Linked DNA regions of Homo sapiens: region 1 is linked to region 2. Evidence: fine-mapped QTL for protein levels in blood plasma. Region 2 holds a variant in brackets. A gene starts in the other region. All regions are shown on their forward strands.

Evidence for each region. PIP is the chance, under the fine-mapping model, that this variant and not a neighbour inherited with it causes the effect. Protein levels are from antibody-based Olink assays in UK Biobank. Linkage for the fine-mapping came from a reference panel and not from the study's own genotypes, which makes the PIPs less certain.
Region 1: it holds the start of IKZF2, and the variant in region 2 is fine-mapped to the plasma level of the IKZF2 protein (UK Biobank, PIP 0.99).

What each region holds. Positions count from the first base shown.
Region 1 is chr2:213,149,222-213,154,586 of GRCh38, forward strand. It overlaps IKZF2 (IKAROS family zinc finger 2), which reads right to left and starts at 2,391. Exons shown (of 9, transcript NM_001387220.1): 1 at 2,192-2,391; 2 at 923-1,026. RefSeq lists an enhancer at 16-115 and silencers at 2,482-2,541, 2,622-2,981.
Region 2 is chr22:22,218,057-22,223,432 of GRCh38, forward strand. It overlaps IGL, the pseudogene IGLVIV-53 and the pseudogene TOP3BP1. Among named protein-coding and RNA genes, the nearest start is that of VPREB1, 24 kb to the right of the region's middle. The variant C/T (reference allele first, on the strand shown) is at 2,407.

The DNA of each region.
Region 1 (5,365 bases), not on the chromosome of region 2:
GTGTAAGCACCTGTTCAATGTAACCTTAATTTCCTGCCAGACCATGCTTGGACACAAATGCCAAGCCTACTTAATACAGTCTGATTTTGAAAATTTCATAAACTTTGGTTGTGCTAGAGAGAATCATTTAAAAAAAAAAAAAACTTTGGGCAATTATTCTCATGCACAAACGCCACACAACAGAACATAATTCTCAGAAACAAAAGTAAACTGTATGAGATGACACCCCCTAGCTTTGATTCACATAATGAAAAGATCGATAATCTAACTGTATTCTGTGGGGAAAAAAGTTTAAGAATTGACAAGTCCTGAGAAGATTTTTACTTTTTTTTCCCCCTTTGGCCTTGGTCCTTTTTGCCTTTAGTTTCAAAACTCTCACTGCACCAGCAGCTAAATTATTCACAATGAGCCATTTCTGTATTGATCGCCAAGTATATTTAGCCCTGGCTCCTGGAATTTCTCCATTACTTACTGGAAAACAGGCAGCTTCACTTCTTGTCTCCAAAACCACTTCCCTTCTCCCTCCCCTCCCCTTCTTCACCACCACACTCCCTTACCCCCCCCCCAAAAAAAAACTTTTATTTCTTTCTTTATGGAATAATCAGATCAAATTCCCAACTCAGTCACTACATAGCACTTAAATTTCAACCTGCTGTACTGTTATCACATTCTTTTAAATTATGATTACATAAGGCTTTAAAGAAAGAGATCCGTAAAGTTTAAAAGAGGAGCAGTTTCTTCGGATATTTTACAAATGAGCTTATCTCTTTAAAAATGTACACATTTAACACACACATATTAAAAAGAAAGAAACGTCAGGGAGAAGCGAAAGAAGGCTGCCCCATCAATGAAATGGTTATTAACCCTCAGAGAAGGAAAGAAGGAAAAAGAAAAAGGAGAAAGAGAAACGAAATGTACATACAAAAGAAATTGTCCTTTGATTAAAAAAGATTCATCACCATTTCCAGCTCTGTCGGGAGATCTCAGCTTCTTCTAACCCCTCAAAGAGGAGGTGACAATGTCGGGCTGAAGATAAACGGAGGGAGAAAGAAAGAAGTTTTTTGTGTTTCCCCCTTCTCTCTTTCCCTCCCTTGCCCCCTCCAAGCCAAGCCCCCTGCAGAGTTCAAGGGGAGGAGGAAGGAAAAGCACTTTACAGGTGGGTCATTCCAAGCCCAAATCCAGCAAACAGATCGGCTGATAAACAAAACCAAGAAATGAGAGAGAAGAACACCCCCCTCCTCCTCCTCCTCCTCCTCGTCCTCCTCCTCCTCCTCCTTCCACCCCTCCCCCTCGTCCCTTAGGGATGGTCTAGTAGGAAAAGTCACTCAGGAATGGCACCACGTACTTTCAGGAAAGAGGAAAAAAAAGAGAGAGAGAGAGGTCAGTCAGTGCTATAGCAATGCGATTAACAAGAGAAAAAACTTGATCCACCGGTTCCTTAAGAATCGACCAAAAGCTAAGACAAGAAAACTGAAAGAAAAGGGGGGGGGGGCGGGTAGAGGGGAGGGACAGTCAGGCAGAACCCAGCTAGGAACCCAGGCCAACTTCACAGGACTGTTTTTGGCCCTTGGCAAAAAAGAAAAAAAATAAATAAATCTTAATTCCATCTCTTTCGCCCATACTAGAACCTGTCAAAGTGATTTAACTGCTGCCTGTTTACATGTGTCATACCAGGGTTTTTGGTTTTTTTTTTTTTTTAATTCCAACAGGATCTGGATATTACCTTCTATCTGGACAGCTTCAATTTATTCCAGCCTACCCAATCTTTCTTCTTGGAATTCAAGTTAAAACAAAGCAAAACAAGTCCAAATTCATGACAGCTATAGAGATGAGAACTGATTAATCGATTAACATCCCAGAAACAGATTACAAGGAGGGGACGATAAATTAAGGCAGAGGACATCATCTTCAACCCGATTCCCTGAGCGTCCTTTACAAAAATCATTACCCTAATCAGAACCACAATCCATCCCTCCCAGAGAAAAATACCTATATTATTATTATTATTACTGGTTAACAGCAACAAGTCATTTGATCACATCACAGTGCAAAACGAGATGCTATATAATTACACTTAACTTTGAAAACACTCCCCCCTTTGCAAATCATACACATATTTATATATAATCTATGAATCAGAAGACAAAACAAGAGCTGTTCTTCACCACGCAAAAGCCAAGCGGAGATTTACCTCAGCAGTGCATGCAGTAAAATAATCCCATCACCCTTTTGTTTGTGTTTACTGTTAATGTGTCCTCTGTCTTTCTTTCTTTCCTGTGCCTAACGTGTGTTTGTGCACTGCAGTTGGTGGTGGAAACTAAGGCAGTGGATCTGTAGCTAAGGGTAATCCTGTTTTTACTTCCTCCATCTTCAGCGAGGAGCAGGGTTAGCCCGGGACAGCTGGTCAAACCCCGAGAAACCGATCCGGTGGAGCCCGAGCACATCTCCCCCGCCGGCCGGGCTCGCGCAGACGCCCGCGGGCGGAGGGCGGGCTGGCGGCGGCTGCGGCGGCGGCGGCGGCGGGCGGCTGGCGGCGGGCAGCGGAGCCCCGGGCGCGGGCGAGCGGACGTGCGTGCGCGCGCGTGCGTGTGTGCGGGGCCCGAGCGCCTGTGCGTGTGTGTATGAGAGCGCGTGTGCGCGCGCGCGCGGGCTGGCGGGCGCGTGTGCGCGTGTCTGCGCGCTAAGCCGCTCGGCGCGCTCGGCAATCGATTACAGGACAAGTGCTGCCCCGGAGGCTCCGCGACGCGCGCACTCCCTCGCGCCCACCCGCGCGCCCGGCCGCGTCGCCCCCAGCCCGTTGGTCCCCGGACTGCGGACCCCGCCCCCGACGGGGGCCAGGTAACCCGCTTCCGAGTGTGCCACGGCGACCCCCATCTCCCCTCCCCGTGTCATAATAAATCTCACGTTTTCTGCCGGCTGGAGGCTTGGAGCGGTGAGGTGACGTTCATTTCGGCCGCGTGAAGTTTTCTTTCAAACTGGGATTGGTGGGGAGGCCGGGGGAAGGGAGCGGGGCGGCGATCTTGGCGCCCTGCGCGGAGTCCGGGAGCCGCGTCCCGGCCGAGTCGGGGAGTGTGCGTGGAGCCTCCCACCTACTGGTCTCCGCCGGCAACTCTGCGGCCCCATTTCGGAAAGCGCACCGCATTGACCGGGACCTGAAGCGGGATAAGAGGGGTCCTGGGGAATAGACTGAGAAAGACATTCATGTCTGAGATGAAGCTCAACTATTACTATTTTGAAAGTGCTTTAACAGTGCAAGTTTAAAAACTAAAGTGTTGACTTGCTTTTTCTCCCCCGGGGCATGTGCCACGTCTTCCAAAGTCAAAGGAACGGATGAGTACAAAAAGTTGCTACCCTTGAAGTGTTACCTATCACTATCAACCACAGCTTGTTTATTTGGAAAGAACTTAAGTGAACCGTCAAGAGAAAAACAAATGCATATTCTTTCTACAAATAGTAGCATTTAGTATCTTTCCTGACCACATTTGCGAAAAGAGGGAATAGAGACTTCTATAATTAAAGGGAAAAGGAAAATGAAAGGAGCTGAAAATAGTGAACTGTGTAGTCTGGATGGCTGAAATTTGAAAACACATGAAATTATCAGGACTGCCAAACGGTGTTCCTGAGAAACCATATCACAGATTGTGAAGAAAATCAATGCTAGAAGAGTCGGAACAGGCACCGTACTCTTACTCCTTTGAAGAATCCCAGAAATAGTTGTTGAGGTTTTTTTTTTCTGCTGAGAAAAAAAGATATATTGGAAATTAAGTCATCAACAGTACCTTAAGCACCACTCTGTAGGTAATTTTGGATAGTGTCTTTTCTTTACATTTTGATATAGGGAAGGAATTAATTCACATCGACACAAACGAAGTAATGGATACCATATAACTTGTGTGATACTGTAGCTTTTATAATGAATTACTTCTTGAAAGTTTTTTTTCCTATACAATGTATTATTAAACAATTGTAACGATAGTCTCTTTTTGTTTAACTATAGAAAATGGTAGATAGTGTGGTACAGCAAACAAGATTAACAAATTTTCGTTGGAGAGAAATTATTTGGGCTCAGGCTTGCAATAACATTATGATGATTTTAAGAAAAATTGCAGTTCCTGTGAGTTATATATTGATAAGGCAGATTTTTAAACACTTAGTTGCTAAAATTAGTTTTCCTAAAGTCGTATTTGGGAAAGTCTGAGTAGAGAACCAGTAAGTCACTCTAATCATCCCAACAGAGAGCAAATATTTTAGTCTTAAATTACCTCAAAAAATCTGTATGTCGTTTATAATATGTAAATGCACAATATGTAAAGGATAACATAAGTTCTCGAAATTGTCATAAGTCCTTCCTAAAAACTGAACCTAAGTGTTTAGGTATCTGTACTGTTACAGAGATCCTTGAAAATATGAAATAAAGATAATCGAAATTAAGATGAAATGTCTGATAGTTTACACAATGTAATTATTTGGTAGAAGAGGATCCATTGTGAAATCTTAAAGATACATCCTCACAGTTACCAAGTTGATGTAGTCCTTGCCCCTGGTTTATTGAAGCTTAATTTAGCTTCCTTGAAGCTGGTCCTTTTCAAGAGTTAACTTTCACTGGCTGCCTAGTCACCAGAGGCACACTTTCTCCCTCTAGTGGCTAAGGCTTCAGACACTACATTCTGTCACCCTGCCTCCCCCTGAATGGATCCCAGATTTTAGAATAACAAAGATCTCATGACCACCTGGGAGAATTGGACCATCTTGGCAAATGTTTCCCTCTTTTTAACATCCTACATTCCTTTCTTATTTGCAGGTTATGGTGTATCTAACTCATCCAGAGAAATCAAGATTATGTTTTCATACCAAGATTGGGGGTTTTATTTCATGCCTGTGGAGTCTATAGTCCTAAGATTCACAATGCAATCCACTCATGGGAAAGAACCCTTGCATAAACTGTAATTCACTTTGTTCAGAATTTCTCTGGGTAGTTTTGTTTGTTTGTTCGTTTTGGTTTTGTTTTTGTTGAGACAGAGTCTCACTCTGTCACCCAGGCTGGAGTGCAGTGGCGCCGTCTCGGCTCACTACAATCTCTGCTTCCTGGGTTCATGCGATTCTCCTGCCTCAGCCTTCTGAGTAGCTGGGATCACAGGCGCCCACCACCACACCTGGCTAATTTTTGTATTTTTTAGTAGAGACAGGGTTTCACCATGCTGGCCAGGGTGGCCTCGAACTCCTGACCTCAGGTGATCTCCCAAAGTGCTGGGTCTCCCAAAGTGCTGGGATTACAGGCGTGAGCAATTGCGCCTGGCCTCTCTGGGTAGTATTTTGATAGTTAGAGGGTGCATTTATTTCTGTCCTTTGCCAGAAGACATAGACT
Region 2 (5,376 bases):
GAGAACACGTGGTATTTGGCTTTCTGTCCCTGTGTTAGTTGCCTAGGATTATGTCCCCCTGCTGCATCCATGTTGCTTCAAAGGACATTATTTTATTCCTTTTTATGGATGCATAGTATTCCATGGGGTATATAAACTATATTTTCTTTATCCAACCCACCACTGACGGGCACCTAGGTTGATCCCATGTCTTTGGTATTGTGAATAGTGTGGTGGTGAATATACAAGTGCATGTGGCCTTTGGGTATAATGATCTATTTGTCTTTGGATAGATACCCTGTAATGGGATTGCTGGGTCAAATGGTAGCTCTGTTTTAAGTTCTTTGAGAAGTCTTCAAACTGCTTTCCACAATGCCTGAAATACGGTGTATACGTGTTTTCTTTACTCTACAGCCTCACCATCAGCTGTTGTTTTTTTACTCTAATTATAGCCATTCTGACTGGTGTGACATGGCGTCTCATTGTGGTTTTGATTTGCATATCTTGATGATTAGTGATGATGAGCATTTCTCCACAGTTTTGTTGGCCACTAATTTAGTGCAGTTTTAAGTTCATAGCAAAATACAGAAGAAGGTAGAAAGATATTCCCTATCCTCCCTGGCTCCACACATGTCCAGCCTTCCCCCTTATCAACGGGTCCCATCAGAAATGTACATGTCCTGTAATTGATGAACCACATTGACAGGTCATTATCACTACAAGTCAGTATTTTCCTTAAGGAATTTTTCTCGCTGATGCACATCCTATGGCTATGGGTTTGTGCAAATATATAATGACATATATCCACCATTACAGTATCATGCAGTGTATTTCCCTTCCCTACAAATCTTCTGGCTTTACTGATTCATCTCTCTCTCTCCCCTAACCTTTGGAAGTCGATGACTTTTCTACTTTTTTCCTTTGTTTGACTGTAATACACTTGAAATTATTTCCCCCTTTTTGGACTGTAATATACTTGGAATCACGTATCATGTCATTTGCAGGTCAGCTCCTTTTACTTACTAATAAGCATTTAAGTTTCTTCCATGTCTTTTCGTGGTTTGATAGTGTGTTGTCCATAAACATGTAGAATATATTAATATAAAGTACTTTGGAGCTGATCACATCACTGGCCATTCAGGTTTTTCAATTACTGTTTGTTGAATGACAGTGACCAGTCAGATGACAGGAAGTCTTAGACCCCCTGAGAACACAGAAGATGGACTGAGGATGTCAGGGTCACCGAGGACTGCACTGGGTGCTCTCATGGAGGGCTCAGTAGGGGTGTCCTCTAGTTCCAGTGAGCCTGGACTGTGATGGGCACTCAGAGAAGGGTCCTCTCTAGCCTAGCAGAGCCCCTGCTCACAGGCCTACCAGCTGTCCCAGCAGCTTTCCCTCCCAGGTCCTTCCGTGGGGCAGACAGAGTCTCACTGCCTGTTAGCCCTTCCTACCCACAAGACCCTCAGCAAAAGATCCTTATTCAGTGCTCAGGGAGAGGTGGGGCAGATAGCAGCTGGGGCCACACCTGCATGACCAGCTCCTCCTCGCTGAGGCCTACAGCAGGTAATAAACTCAATCCATCCCACTGGACCAAAGGGAGCTGTGTCTACCATGGCCTGGACCCCTCTCGTGCTTGTCCTCACTCCCTGCACATGTAGGGAAAAGGCCTAGAGACCTGGGGCAGTTCCCAGCTTGTGTCAGCCCCTCTGGCTCAGACTTGCCAACAGCTTAACCCTGACACCTGCTCCAACAATGTAAATGTTTGCATTTCCAGGTTCCCTCTTCCAGGCTGGGCTGACCCAGGTGTCCTCACTCCCAGCATCTTCATGCAGATCAAACACTCACCTGCACTCAGAGCATATCGGCTTTCATATCGGTGGCAAAAATACCTTCTTTTCCCTACAGAATCCAGGGAGCCCTCCAACTATGTTCTGAGATTATGCTCAGGCTAAAATGAGTACCAGGCCTCTGGGGTCCCCAGACAATTCTCTGGGTTGAGAGGCTCCTCCAGAGTCTCAAGTTATTTGGTCGTCTCTGGCCTTCACCTTGAGGATGGAGCAGATCATCTCTCTCAGATGGGCTGACAGGGCATGGCTTACACTGTGCTCTAGGCCAATGGGAAAATCCCCTCTGCTTGTGCTGCCTGGGCTCCCACTAGGCCCCTGCTGTTTGTGACAACAGCCAGCACTGGTGGTGACGCTTCAGCCATGTATGCCCTACGGTGAGAGTCTGCAGCCCTTCCACGCAACTATCACTTGCAGAATGTCTGCATCATTGCTAATAGCACATTCTGAGCCTCCTCACGTTTCTGTGGGCAACAATTTCCTTCCCAAGACGTGCACATGATACAGGAGATTTATTTACCAAATAAGTTTATTAGGAATCCAATTATAATTAGAAGATATTCATCAGTGATCGGGGGAAATA[C/T]CTGGTATAATTAAAATAGAATTTGATGAAAATATAAATAAAGAACTAAATTATGAAGGTGTGGGCAGAGAGTCTGGACACCCTAAGGGAGATGGAAAACCATTCATCCTTGCCAGGAATGAATGTCTCTGGGATGCTTCTCTAACAGGAGGAACCTGGAGTGAGACCAGGAACCTGGAGAACTAGCAGCTGGGTGACTGGAAAGGAAACCATCTGGGGTGGGGTTGGGTCTGCAAGGCAGGAGGTGTCTGGGCAGAGAAAGCAGGGCTGGGGCGGAGGGTCCTGCCTCATCCCATTCTCCTGCTCACTCCTTCCTAGATCCCTGTCAGGGCAGTAACCATGAGCAAGGCTTGAGGCTACTTCTTATAAACTGTGGCCCTGGGCACATTCCTTAGCTCACCTGAGCCTCAGTTTCTTGATGAGAAAAAATCGGGACAATAGCAACCAACCTATCTCAGAGGGCTGCTGTGAGACCCTGAGCCACTGTTTCTCAAACTGCCCCTGAGATCACCTACAACAGAATGGCTGTAGGGTGAAGTTTGAGAACCGCAGTATAGGTGAGGTGGTGCGTGGGGCAGGCCCTCCCACACTGTAAAGTGCAGTGTGGTGCGGTAAAAGCTGATATTCCCGCAGGCATCCTCAGAGTGGGCCCAATTAGACTCTTGAGCACTGATTCCATTCAAGGTCTGCGGCTTAGAGAGGATGGCAAAGTGAGGCACCACCAGGAGCTTGTCCCTATGGGCTCCAGGCCAAGGACGTGCCTGGAGATGACTCCTGCCTTGTGGCGCTGTCACTGCCTCACTGTCCACATTCCATCACGCCTCAGATCCTGGCTTCCACCCTGGTGAAAGGAATCTTTCAATATCACCCACCCAGCCACAGACGCTTCTCTGCTTCTCTGGCAAGGCTGCACCCCTGGCTAGGTGGGCAGGGCCAGGGGCTCCTTGAGACAGTCTGCAGCCACTGAGCTCTCCAGCCTCCAGGGCAGAGGTACAGTCCCATGGAGCGTGGCTGATCTGAAGGCAGTTCTGGCCTAAAAGGGGTCTTGTCCCTTCCTCGTCCTCATTGCTCCCAAGGCCAGGTTGGCAGCAGTAGCAGCGGGGTTGGATGCTATTGGATGGGAGAAGGTGAATGGACTCGGAGTGCAGAATCAAGCTGCGGAAGCCAAGGGCCTTGAAGGAGGGTCACACACAAGGGACAACTGCAGAGGAAAATAAAGGAACACTTTGTGATTAGCCCTGCCTGTGGCTGAAAGCGCAGTGCAGAAGCATAGTAAGGAAGGACTGGGTGGTCTGGGTTTAAGACCTAGGAACCGTCTCTGCTCCTCCAAGCCTGAATGAGCCCTATAACCTAAGGGTCCTGGAGGTCTTGAAACCTTCTGCGGAGAAGGCTCCAGGTCCACTGGGCCCTGTGGGTGGAAGAGCAGAGTCACAGCCCCGCACTGGGGACCTAACAGGTGTGGCCTTGCTAGGGCCCCAGAATGGGACCAGAGTGGGTGGGAGGGGGCAGAAGCTCTGAGAGCACCCCCTCCTTCCTGAAGCCTGTGCTTCTGAGACACATCCCAGGACCCTCTATGTGGTTCCCCATGTCTCTGTATTTTCATTCAGCTTCGAGTAGCTCTCCAAACTGTGTTCCAGGGAACCCCCGTGTTAACCTGTGAGGGCCTCCAGGAAGGGGGTCCAGGTGGGGTATGCTTGGTGGGCTCTGGGTTTCCTTACAGGAGCTCTCATATAAGTCCTGGTGCAGCCTGGGAATCTACTACTGAGTTGGGGCGGGGGCGGGTCTGAGTCCGAAACATTCCTGACCTGCCCCTCAAAGAAAGGTCCCACTGAACAGTCTGGAAAGCTGTTTTGCTGAGCTCCCGTCATCACTCAATGAGGCACGGGCGGAGTGTGGAGGGAGTTTCCAACACACAGTGGATCCCGCACAGGTGTCTCTCCTCGGGTGGCTGGGGAGGGGAGCACAAGAAGGCACTGAGGTCAGAGGGCAGCTGCCACCAGCACCTGGCACCACAGGGCAGTCTGGCCTACAGGGTATTTTCTAAACCTGGCATGTGAATGGGTTCCATGGGGCACCCAGCTGCCTCTAAGACCATAAGGCCTTGTTGTGAGAATGGGAATTGCAGCAGGTCCTGGGAAGCTGCCAGACGCACACGGGCACCATGTACAGGGCTTCTCAGAGATGGGAGCAGGGAGCAGGGGACGGAGAAGCGTGGGGTCAAGAGCGTGGCCCTGAGCAGGGGGCTGCAGCGAAGACCAAGGGGATTCATAAGCCAGATCCAGGGAGGGGGTCTCCCAGCCCCACCTGCTCCACTAAACTCCTCTCCTGCCGGAGCCACAGCTGTCAAGGCCGCCTTCCTTAAGGCATCAGGGCCACTGCTTGTGCACACAGCTACCATCAGCAGCACGGATTGAGATGGGGTGTGAGTGCAAACTGGGTCTATTCCCCAGGGCTTCAGGGTTGGGGCATCCCTGCCCGTACTGCCAGGGTGTAGGGATAGCAGGGAGCACTCTGGGCACGTGTATGCAGGCTGAAGGGAGACGTATTGGGTTTCGGAGAGGGAAAGAGGGCCCCACAGGTGCCCAGGGACACGGTAACGCTCTGACATCGCTGCACCAGCAAAGGGGCCCCAGCTCTGGATAAGATAAAATGCATTTTAATAGTTTGAAGTGCCATGAGGTGTCTGCATGGCACTGCAGCCTGGGTGAGGGAGGACAGGGTCATCATACAAAGTAGGCGGCCAGGGCTGACATCTTGTCCTTGGGCCGTCTGGGGTTGGGCTTCCCAGGGGGCCTCCTGGCCCGGCCCCGCCCTCGACCCTGCCTTCTCCCTGGTCCACCGCGGTGCATGGGGTGGCAGGAGGCCGCATGCTTCAGCTCCACCAGCTCCTGGAAGACGGGGTCACAAAAGACGCAGCCCATGTGCTGCGCCTCATCGCCCGGGAGTGGGGACTTGGCCTTGTTGAAGTCC